Homo sapiens: one gene and its partners. The protein of the gene in region 1 purifies or fractionates together with the protein of each later gene. This does not show direct contact. Each region holds a gene or a part of one and is shown on either strand. Other genes may lie near its edges. The genes, in order: MMAB, PSMG2 and TPD52L2.

Region 1 (3,650 bases):
CAGGCATCACAAGGGGTGTTAACCTGTTCACCCATCCACCTCCCACCCAGCCTTGGCACTGTGAGGGCGGGGACAGTGTCTGGTTCACCTGGGAGCCCCGCCTGGCCTGGTAGCCGCTCGCAGGGCCTGTGGATGAGGCCGGGCAGCAATGCCACTGCTTTCCTCATATCACCCATTTCACCCTCACAGACACCCGTGAGGTGGAAGTTAATGTCCACAGCTTATAGGGAGCCAAACTGAGCCTCAGAAAGGCTGACTTGCCCAGCCCCCACAGCCAGGCATCAGTAGAGCTGGAATCTGATTCCCAAACTGGTGCCATTTCTCCCCAGCCCTTGGGGTACACGCTGCACGTGGCCAACCAAGTGGGTAGTATTATCACTCCCGCTTTGACTGTGAAAGTGCAGAGACCCCAAGCAGGGAAGCAGCTTGCCCAAGGTCTGCTGGTCAGAAGCCCTGGGAAGGTTCCAGCCCAGTGCTGGATGGGCAGCCTCTGCTCTCACACACCATGGCCTGCTTCTTGAATGCTGTCACAGTGGCCATCTTAGGAGAGGTCAGAAGTCGCAGACCTTCACCCTCCTGGTAGCCCACCATCCAGCTTGAGTGGACCCTGGCTGGGCACAAAGTCAGAGGTGGTACTTGTGGTCTTCACATGCATGAGAGCTGTTGGACATTTGTCATGCAGGGGCCTGGAGTCCTGCAGCAGACCTTAACAGACCACTTCTGTTCCAAGCAAACCCACTCCCCACCTGGACAGAGCACAGGCCTCACCCAGCCAGGCTTCCTGCTCCCAGAATCCCCACACGCCTCGGCTGACTACATTCTCCAAGCTCCTTGTCCTTTAGAGTTTAGAAAGCACTGTCACATTTGACCTCTTGGCCCAACTGTTACAGGTTAGAAAACCAAAGCTGTCAAATGTTGAGAAAAGAAGAAAACCTCACAGGGCCTAGGTGCACAGGAGACGTGGACAGAGCCCAGACGGTTCCTCTTGACTGTCCCTGGGTGTGTGATGCGTGTCATCTGCTTAACCCAGCTGCTGCCCCCATGGGAGCCTTTTCCTCCCTCAGACTGCAAAAGAGCCACACCAGGTCCCCCTCAGCAGGGCTGGGTGTCCAACGAAGATGTTGTGCTGAAAGTTCAGAGTTTGCTTTCAAATGTCAGCCAGTTCAAGGTCTGATAGCCTGTATTAGTCTGTTCTCGCACTGCTATAAAGAACTACCTGAGACCGGATAATTTATAAAGAAAAGAAGTTTAATCTGCACATGGTTTTGTGGGCTGTACAGGCTTCTGCTTCTGGGGAGGCCTCAGGAAACCTACAGTCATGGCGGAAGGCAAAGGGGAAGCAGGTACATCTTCACATGGCTGATAGGAGAGAGAGAGTGTGAAGAGGGAGGTGCTACACACTTTCAAACAACCACATCTCATGAGAACTCTATCACAAGACAGCACTAGGGGGCTGGGGCTAAACCATTCAAAACTACCCCAATGATCCAATCACCTCCCACCAGGCCCCACCTCCAACTCTGGGGATCACAATTTAACATGAGATTTGGATGGGGACACATTGCCAAACCATATCACAGCCCTTCATGAGCTAGCTGGCACAGGCTTTGCCGGCGTATTAGGTGGCGCCTCTGCACATTGTCTCTGTCCAGCCCATCTCACATAGATCTTGACTGTCACTTTCTGTCGCCCCCCAGATCCAGTGCACATTGCAGGACGTCGGCTCGGCCCTGGCGACACCATGCTCCTCGGCCCGGGAGGCTCACTTAAGTAATTCTCAAACTCCTGTGGGTGTTCAGAGGGCCCTAGGGTCAGGGGACTCTCCTAGGGTCACCATCTGGGATCCCAGGCCCCCAGGGACCCACGGGTGGGTCAGTTAGCCTTGCTCGTAGCTCCTGGGAGGGAAGGTACCTTCTGAGCCAGTGGAAGCAGTCTGCGGGACACCCAGGTGGAAGGGCGGCGGGGGTGGTTCCCGCCATGGTCTGGTGGGTGATGGCCTCATGGCAGTTCCCTCTGCTCCTTGGCTCCTCAGAGTATACCACGTTCAAGGCGGGGCCCATCCTGGAGCTGGAGCAGTGGATCGACAAGTACACCAGCCAGCTCCCACCACTCACGGCCTTCATCCTGCCTGTAGGTACTGGGCAGGCTTAACCGGGGGCGGCTGCAGGCAGGTTCAGTGACAGACACACATGGGCTCTGAATAAATCCCTCTTTTCACAGTGACAGACGCTGTCCTCCAGTTCCCCAAGTCCCTCCAGGTCCTCACCGGTCCCTCCCAGCCCTGCCCACTCTGGAGCAGCGTGCCCGGTGGGTGTGCCGTGGCAGGGCTCCTGGAGGCAGAACACTGCCCGGTTTGGGGGGCAGGGCTGGACTTCAGAGGAGCTCCTGTCCGCAGTGGGCACACCTTTCCCACCCTGCTCAGGCAATGTCCCTTTCTCCTTTCAGTCGGGAGGCAAGATCAGCTCGGCGCTGCATTTCTGCCGGGCCGTGTGCCGCCGGGCCGAGAGACGGTAAGAGGGCTGGAGAGAGGGAGAGGGCCCAAGGGAGAGGGAGAGGAACAAGGGGGAGGGGGGAGGGAGAGGGAGAGGAGGACGGAGATGGGGAGAGGGAGAGGGGCCTCTGCACAGCGGGCAGGAGGCAGGTACAGCAGGGCCATCTCTGAGCCATCCAGCCACACATCAACAGACCTTGTCTGGGCCCCTCCACTGTGCCAGACGGGGACCAGGACAGACCAAGTCCCTGTCCTCAGAGCACCATGTTGTGAAGTGGAGACAGTGACATGTGACCAAATAGACTATCAGACAACACAATTGCACCTTGTTTGTGAGCCCTGTATTCTGAGAACAGCAGGAAGTTATTGCTGGGTTCTCAGCCTCAGCCATCTTGGGGACAGGGGTAGACATGAAAGGACCCTGCTGGCTGCTGGGTGCATAAGGCTCCTGAAAGGCCTGCATGGCTGTGGGGAGCCCAGGTGGACGTTGTCAGCAGACTAGCCACCACCTCCTCCAAAGCTACTGACAGCCTTTTCAAGGAATCTTTAGAAGAAAATGAGCAAAGTCTCTATCTACACCACTCAGAGACCAGGCTGCCAGCCAGCTTTACAGAGAAGAGAAAGCAAGCCCTACTTTGATCCAATGGACTGGCACTTTATGTTCATAATTTCATTTACTCCTTGTTGATAGCCCTGGGAGAGAGGTGGTGGTGGCCTCTGTTTTACAGGAGTCAGGAAGCTGTGGCTCAGAGAAATGACACCATGGTCACGGTCCCCCACATGGTTGATAGCAGAATCCAGATTGGAGTCCACGTCTGTCTGGGCCAAGCCTGAGCTCTTCCACGGTCCCACACCACTAAGGTTTTGTTCTTTATGAAAGGCTCTCGGGCCCAGATAGCTCCTTAGAGATCCCAGGTAACAGAACAAGCTTTGGCTTCAAAAGAAAAAACTGTCATTTGTACAAAGCCATCCATCAGCAGTGCTCATAATAGCAAGAAACTGGAAACAACCCAAAGGCCCCGAAAACAGGCATGGCGGAGCAGCTGATAGGTCCTCCATGCAGCAGAGAGTTACGCAGCCATGGCAGTGGCAAGGTGCAGATTGTCCTGAGGTGGGGACACACACCTGGGGCACCTCGGGTGAGGAAGCTCCTCGCTGA
Region 2 (3,650 bases), on another chromosome or scaffold:
TGGACCGCAGTGGCATGATCTCGGCTCACTGCAAGCTCCACCTCCTGGGTTCACGCCACTCTCCTGCCTCAGCCTCCCGAGTAGCTGGGACTACAGGCGCCCACCATCACGCCCGGCTAATTTTTTTGTATTTTTAGTAGAGACGGGGTTTCACCGTGTTAGCCAGGATGGTCTCGATCTCCTGACCTTGTGATCTGCCCGCCTCAGCCTCCCAAAGTGCTGGGATTACAGGCGTGAGCCACCGTGCCTGGCCACAAGACTAATTTCAAAATAGCAAACATTTATTGAGCATTGATTCTTTGTGCTGATACTGTTCTAAGTACCTTATATTTATTACTTAATCCTCATGACAAACCTATAAGACAGATACTAATATTATCCTTATTTTTCAAAGGAAACACTGAAGTACAGAAAGATTAAGCAATTGCCTGACACATGATCTTAGGGAGGCAGGACCAGCACTCTAACCCAGGCAGCCTGGCTCCAGAGCTTGCCTTTTTTCTTTTACTTTTTTTTTTTTTTTTTTTTTTGAGACAGGGTGTCACTCCACCCAGGCTGGAGTGCAGTGGCACAACTATGGCTCACTACAGCCCTGACCTCCGAGGCTCAAATGATCCTCCCACCTCAGCCTCCTGAGTACCTGGGGCTACAGACGTGCACTACCATGTGTAATAATTTTTTTTTTTTTTGTAGTAACAGGGTCTCACTATATTGCCTAGGCTGGGCTTTAACTCCTGGGCTCAAGTAGTCTGCCCACCACGGCCTCCCAAAGTGTTGGGATTACAGGAGTGAGCCACCTTGCCTGTCCCAGAGCCTGCCTCTCTTAACTGCTGCACTAGACTACCTTCTTATTTTAAAAGTTAGCCTGCATTTCTCTTACCTGCATTTTAAATTTTATTGAGTAGTTATTTTATGAGCAGTCTTTGAAAAATTTTCATAAAGCGGGCTCCCCCTGAAATTTTATAACCCACATTCCAGATTTACCAGCTGTGAATGTCTTGCCACACCTACTTGATCTCTCGCTATGCGCGTACACAGTTTCCTTCTTCGAAACAATCCAGAAGTAGGCTAGCAATGGTCACCCCTACATACTTCCGCACACATCTTTCAAGAACAGGACACCATTACCACACCCAAGAAAACCAGCATTTAATGAATTTATTCAGGAGTATCATCCAACATACTCAAATTTCCACAGCTGTTCCGAAAGTATCCTTCAATTCTGGATCCATTGATGGTTCACAGGTTGTATTTGGCTGTTACATCTTTTTAGTTGTTATCCTTCAGAGTAAAACTGGCCTGCCCCTCTTTCTTTCTTTACAATATTGACTCCTTTGAGGAACCGGGGCTGGATGTGGAGCATTCTCCATTCATCTGATTGTTTCCATGTGACCAGATTCGGGTCACAAATTTCTGGCAAGAACCCTTCACAGATGACCATGTATTGGTTATTAGGTAACAATAGATTACTCAAGTAGAGAACTGGGAAATTGTCCTTTGTCCATCACAATAGATTTTTTTTGAAATCTAGATTCCTCATGATTCATTGATTTCTTTTCTTTTTCTTTTTTCTTTTTTTTTTTTTTTTGAGAAAGTTTCACTCGGTTCCCCCGGCTGGAGTGCAATGGCACAATCTCGGTTCACTGCAGCCTTCACCTCCTGGGTTCAAGTGATTCTCCTGTCTCAGCCTCCTGAGTAGCTGGGATTATAGGTGCCTGCCACCATGCCCCGCTGATTTTTTTATTTTTAGTAGAGATGGGGTTTTACCATGTTGGCCAGGCTGGTCTTGAACTCTTGACCTCAGGTGATCCGCCTGCCTCCCAAAGTGCTGGGACTACAGGCGTGAGCCACCATGCATGGCCATTGATTTCTTAATTATAAAGATACATTAGATAATTCATTGCTCTTTATCATTCACTTTCGGTTTAAGCACAGTAAGTGGATCTGAAAATAATTTCAGTATATATAAATTATATATCATTATCACATAAAGTTGATGAAATAGTATATAGAATGTTTGTATGCTCTAAGACTAACTTTTAGATTTTCTTTTTATTCTCTCAATGGTGTGCAAAGTATAAATCAAAGCCATTCTGTGAAAAACTGCTTTCCTGGGTGAAAAGCAGTGGCTGTGCCAGAGTCATTGTTCTTTCAAGCAGTCATTCATATCAGCGTAATGATCTGCAGCTTCGTAGGTATGTTTCTGCCTCTGGAAAGTTATTTTTGGTATGGTTTATACTATGATAATTTCTCTATTAAAAAGTTAAACTTTAAAAGCCACGTAGATCCTTACCTCTTCTTACTGGAGTTTAGAAAGAGGGGGGTAAGAGAAGGTCAGGAGATGGGAGGGAGTACAGTTAGGCAGATCTTTTCAGTTCCTGTGAGCTTAGTAGAGTTGGGGCATGGGGAAGACATCGTGTAGAGAGAGAGAGTTTGGGAACCATGTTTTTAGTGTTTCCCGTCACATACATGGCAACATCACAGAGCTCAGCTAATTGAAGAGAATAAGCAGAAAAGGTACTCAAGATTTATAAAGTTGCTAACTTTTGAAAGGTTAATATTTTCAGTTATTTCCATATGTTACCTTGAAAGATTAATATTTTCAGTTATTTCCATATATGCTACCATTTTTTAAAAAACATTTACTTTTTGTAGAGACAGGGTCTAGCTATGTTGCCCAGGCTGGTCTCGAATTCCCAGGCTCAAGCAGTCTGCCTGCCTCAGCCTCCCAAAGTATTGGGATTGCATGTGTGAGCCCCCCGCACCTGGCCACATGCAACCATTCGTATTTGCAGAAATCCACTTGCCTAAAGGGTAGCTCCCTGGCATGTCAGAGTGAGTTCTTAAATGTAAGACAGAGTATCCCAGAAATAGAACTATAAGCTATCATTACCACATAAAGTTGATAACATATCATATAGAATACTCTTATACTCTAAGATGTAGCTTTTATTTATTTATTTTTGAGACGGAGTCTTGCCCTGTCACCCAGGCTGGAGTGCAGTGGCATGGTCTCAGCTCACTGCAACCTCCACCTCCTGGATTCAAGCGATTCTCCTGCCTCAGCCTCCTGAGTAGCTGGGATTACAGGTACCTGCCGCCACGCCAGACTAATTTTTGTAATTTTAGTGGAGGCTGGGCTTCACTGTGTTGGCCAGGCTGGTCTCAAATTTCTGACCTCAGGTAATTCGCCTGCTGGGTCTCCCAAAATGCTGGGATTACAGGCATGAGTCACTGTGCCCGTCCCCAGGATGTAGCTTTTTTTTTTTTTCCTCTTTTTTTTTTTGAGACGGAGTCTTTCTCAGTTGCCCAGTTCTCAGTTGCCCAGGCTGGAGTGCAGTGGCGCAATCTCGAGTCACTGCAACCTCTGCCTCCTGGGTTCAAGCGGTTCTCCTGCCTCAGCCTCCCGAGTACTTGGGACTACAGGCGCATGCCACCACACCCGGCTAATTTTTTGTGTTTTTAGTAGAGACAGGATATTGGCCAGGCTGGTCTCGAACTCCTGACCTCAGGTGATTTGCCTGCCTGGGCCTCCCAAAGTGCTGGGATTACAGGCATGAGCCACCACGCCCGGCCCCAAGATGTAGCATTTAGATCATTTATTTTTTATTTTTTATTCTTTTGGGGATGGAGTCTCACTCTGTCACCCA
Region 3 (3,650 bases), on another chromosome or scaffold:
TGGAATGGTGCGATCTTGGCTCACTGCAGCCTCTGCCTCCCAGGTTCAAGTGATTCTCCTGTCTCAGCCTCCCGAGTACCTGGGGTTACAGGTGCATGCCACCACGCCTGGCTAATTTTTGTATTTTTGGTAGAGACGGCCTTTCATCATATTGGTCAGGCTGGTCTCGGACTCCTGACCTCAGGTGATCTGCCCGCCTCGGCCTCCCAAAGTGCTGGGATTACAGGCATGAGCTATCGTACCCGGCCAAGAAAGAGAATTTTTAAAGAGAAGCTAGTCATATATGAGCTGAAGATACTGAGAACTCATTCTAAAGTGGTAAAGCTTTGAATGATGCCCCTTTCAGAGGTCATGTTCTTTTTTTTTTTTTTTTTTTTTAAAGACCTGAGAAAGTTCAAGTCTTCATGATCAGGAATCTTTCTGTTGCTCAGTTCTAACTACGTTAAGCACAAAAGATAATTTACCTTTTGGTTCGTGTAACTGACTCTTGCCAAGGTTTGGAACTGACCTCAGGAACACAAGTGTTTTCTTAAGGGTGTTTTTTTCTGTCACCTGTGTCACTGTCCATCTGCCTCCTCCTCTCTGCATATGGAATTCTATGAGTGCAGACGGTGCCCGGCTGCCAACAGTTCCAGCTTCTATTGTCCAAGCCCAGACTGAGAGCCCTGAGGGAAAAGGATCCTCACTGTTTTTTGTTTGTTTGTTTGTTTTTGAAACAGTCTCGGTCTGTCACCTAGGCTGGAGTGCAGTGGCATGATCTCGGCTCACTGCAACCTCTGTCTCCTGGGTTCAAACAGTTTTCCTGCCTCAGCCTCCCGAGTAGCTGGGGTTACAGGCGTGCACCACCATACCTGGCTAATTTTTGTATTTTTAGTAGAGACGGGGTTTTGTCATGTTGGCCAGGCTGGTCTCAAACTCCTGACCTCAGATAATCTGCCTGCCTTGGCCTCACAAAGTGCTGGGATTACAGGCGTGAGCCACTGTGCCCGGCCAGGGTCTTCACCATTTTTTTGTTGTTGTTGTTTTGTTTTGTTTGAGATGGAGTCTCGCTCTGTCACCCAGGCTGGAGTGCAGTGGCACAATCTTGGCTCACCCGCAAGCTCTGCCTCCTGGATTCACACCATTCTCCTGCCTCAGCCTCCCGAGTAGCTGGGACTACAGGTGCCCGCCACCGTGCCTGGCTAATTTTTTGTATTTTTTAGTAGAGACAGGGTTTCGCTGTGTTAACTGTGTTAGCCAGGATGGTCTCGATCTCCTGACCTCGTGATCCGCCCGCCTTGGCCTCCCAGAGTGCTGGGATTACAGGCATGCGCCACTGCGCCCGGCCGGTCTTCACCTTTTTAATACCATGCCCAGTCCTAGTAAAGAGCTCGGACAAACCTGGCATGGTCATCCTGGGCCATTCCTCATGACCACAAATGGACATGGTGATTGGTAGCTCTCCCAGAACCATTTAGTTGTGGGGCATGGGATAGTTCCCTGGAGTCAAGTTCCTAGTACCAGATAAAAACAAATGTCTGCTGGCTGGGCGCGGTGGCTCACGCCTGTAATCCCAGCACTTTGGGAGGCTGAGGTGGGAGGATCACCTGAGGTTGGGAGTTTGAGACGAGCCTGACCAACATGGTGAAACCCCATCTCTACTAAAAATACAAAATTAGCCGGGCAGGGTGGCACACGCCTGTAATCCCAGCTACTTGGGAGGCTGAGGCAGGAGAATCACTTGAATCTGAAAGGCAGAGGTTGCGGTGAGCCGAGGTCGTGCCATTGCACTCCAGCCTGGGCGACGAGCGAAACTCCATCTCAAAAAAAAAAAAAAACCAAAACCCAAAAATCAGATGTCTGCTGTAGATGCTGTTATTCCTAGGACGAGTTAATGCTTTGGTAAGCGGAAAGTTCTTGTGTAACTCATGGCACTGTGCATGAGGATGTTAGTCACTTCCTGCAGTAGTGATGGCTCATCATGTCAACTGCATGCTTTGCAGGTGGAAGAGGAAATTGTCACTCTGCGCCAGGTCCTGGCAGCCAAGGAGAGGCACTGTGGAGAGCTCAAGAGGAGGCTGGGCCTCTCCACCCTGGGGGAGCTGAAACAGAACCTGTCCAGGAGCTGGCATGACGTGCAGGTCTCTAGCGCGTAGGTACCTGCCCCAGGCGCACCCCTGGGGGCTGAAGAGAACGGGCACCACACGTGCCCCGGCATGTGGGGGGGCGTCGTCATGCCCAGGGACGAGTTGCAGCCGTGGAGTTGAGTGGCCTGTTTGGAAGGATCCAGAGAGAGGCTCTGAGCCCTTGGCCCAGCGACTGTGCCTTGTTTGTTCAAAAAGCTTGGTGTCTACATGTGTTTTATTTATTTTTAAGTTTTTGTGTACTTTATTATTATTTTTTTTGAGACAGAGTCTCACTCTGTCGCCCAGGCTGGAGTGTAGTGGCGTGATCTTAGCTCGCTGCAACCTCTGCCCCCCGGGTTCAAGCGATTCTCCTGCCTCAGCCTCCCAAGTAGCTGGGATTACAGGCGCCTCCCACCGCGCCCGGCTGATTTTTTTTTTTGTGTGTGTGTGTGTGTGTGTGTGTGTGTTTTTAGTAGAGATGGGGTTTCACCATGTTGGCCAGGCTGGTCTTGAACTCCTGACCTTGTGATCCACCCACCTCAGCCTCCCAAAGTGCTGGCCACCACGCTGGCCTTTTTTTTTTTTTTATTATTATTCTTTTTTGAGATGGTTTCGCTCTGTCACCCAGGCTGGAGTGCAGTGGCGCAATCATGATTCACTGCAACCTCAACCTCCTGGGTTCAAGCAATCCTCCCAACTCAACCCCCCTCGTAGCTGGGATGACAGGCGTGCGCCACCATGCCTGGCTAATTTTTTCACGTTTTATAGAGACAGGGTCTTGCTTTGCTACCTAGGCTGGTCTCAAATTTCTGGGCTCAAGCAATCCTCTTGTTTTGGCCTCCTAAAATGCTTGGGATTACACGTGTGAGCCACCACATCCGGCTTATATACGTGTTCTAAAAAGGCAGACACACTGGCTAGTTGTCCTGGTGGAAAATGATAGGAAGACTGTTTCAGGGTCCAGACTTGAGAGAGCACTGATCAGGTCCTTGGCAAGAGCGGTTTTTCTGTGGTCCTTGTTGTGGGTGTGGCATGGTCACAGCCTCTGACCCAGATATGGCCATATGGGCCGGGCATGGTGGCTCATGCCTACAATCCCAGCACTTTGGGAGGCTGAGGCGGGTGTATCACTTGAGGTTAGGAGTTCAAGACTAGCCTGACCAACATGGAGAAACCCTGTCTCTACTAAAAAATAAAAAAATTTAGCTGGGCGTGGTGGTGCGCACCTGTGATCTCGGCTACTAGGGAGGCTGAGGCAGGAGAATCTCTTTAACCCGGGAGGCGGAGGTTGCAGTGAGCCAAAATTATGCCACTGCCCTCCAGCCTGGGTGACAGAGCAAGACTCTGTCTCAAAAAAAAAAAATATATATATATATATATTTATATATAGGACCATATGGTCCCACAACCCTAGGGACTCTGACCCTCCCCGATGACGACGTGGTCCTACATGACGACGTGGTCCTATAACCCTGGGACACCTGTCCCAGATGTCGCTCAGCTCTGAATTTGGGGAGTGCTGCTTTCTCACTTGGCCCTGTCCAC

What was found.
Region 2: the proteins of MMAB (region 1) and PSMG2 purify together in Homo sapiens (co-immunoprecipitation; one large-scale study listed by IntAct). This does not show direct contact.
Region 3: the proteins of MMAB (region 1) and TPD52L2 fractionate together in Homo sapiens (co-fractionation; one large-scale study listed by BioGRID). This does not show direct contact.

Annotation. Positions count from the first base shown.
Region 1 is NC_000012.12:109,559,900-109,563,549, reverse strand, and holds part of MMAB (corrinoid adenosyltransferase MMAB precursor), read left to right. Parts: intron 1-1,697; coding exon 1,698-1,770; intron 1,771-2,032; coding exon 2,033-2,130; intron 2,131-2,220; coding exon of another isoform or gene 2,221-2,307; intron 2,308-2,445; coding exon 2,446-2,510; intron 2,511-3,650. UniProt on the Homo sapiens protein: Converts cob(I)alamin to adenosylcobalamin (adenosylcob(III)alamin), a coenzyme for methylmalonyl-CoA mutase, therefore participates in the final step of the vitamin B12 conversion.
Region 2 is NC_000018.10:12,716,441-12,720,090, forward strand, and holds part of PSMG2 (proteasome assembly chaperone 2), read left to right. Parts: intron 1-2,076; coding exon 2,077-2,195; intron 2,196-3,650. UniProt on the Homo sapiens protein: Chaperone protein which promotes assembly of the 20S proteasome as part of a heterodimer with PSMG1.
Region 3 is NC_000020.11:63,871,686-63,875,335, forward strand, and holds part of TPD52L2 (tumor protein D54), read left to right. Parts: intron 1-1,982; coding exon 1,983-2,131; intron 2,132-3,650.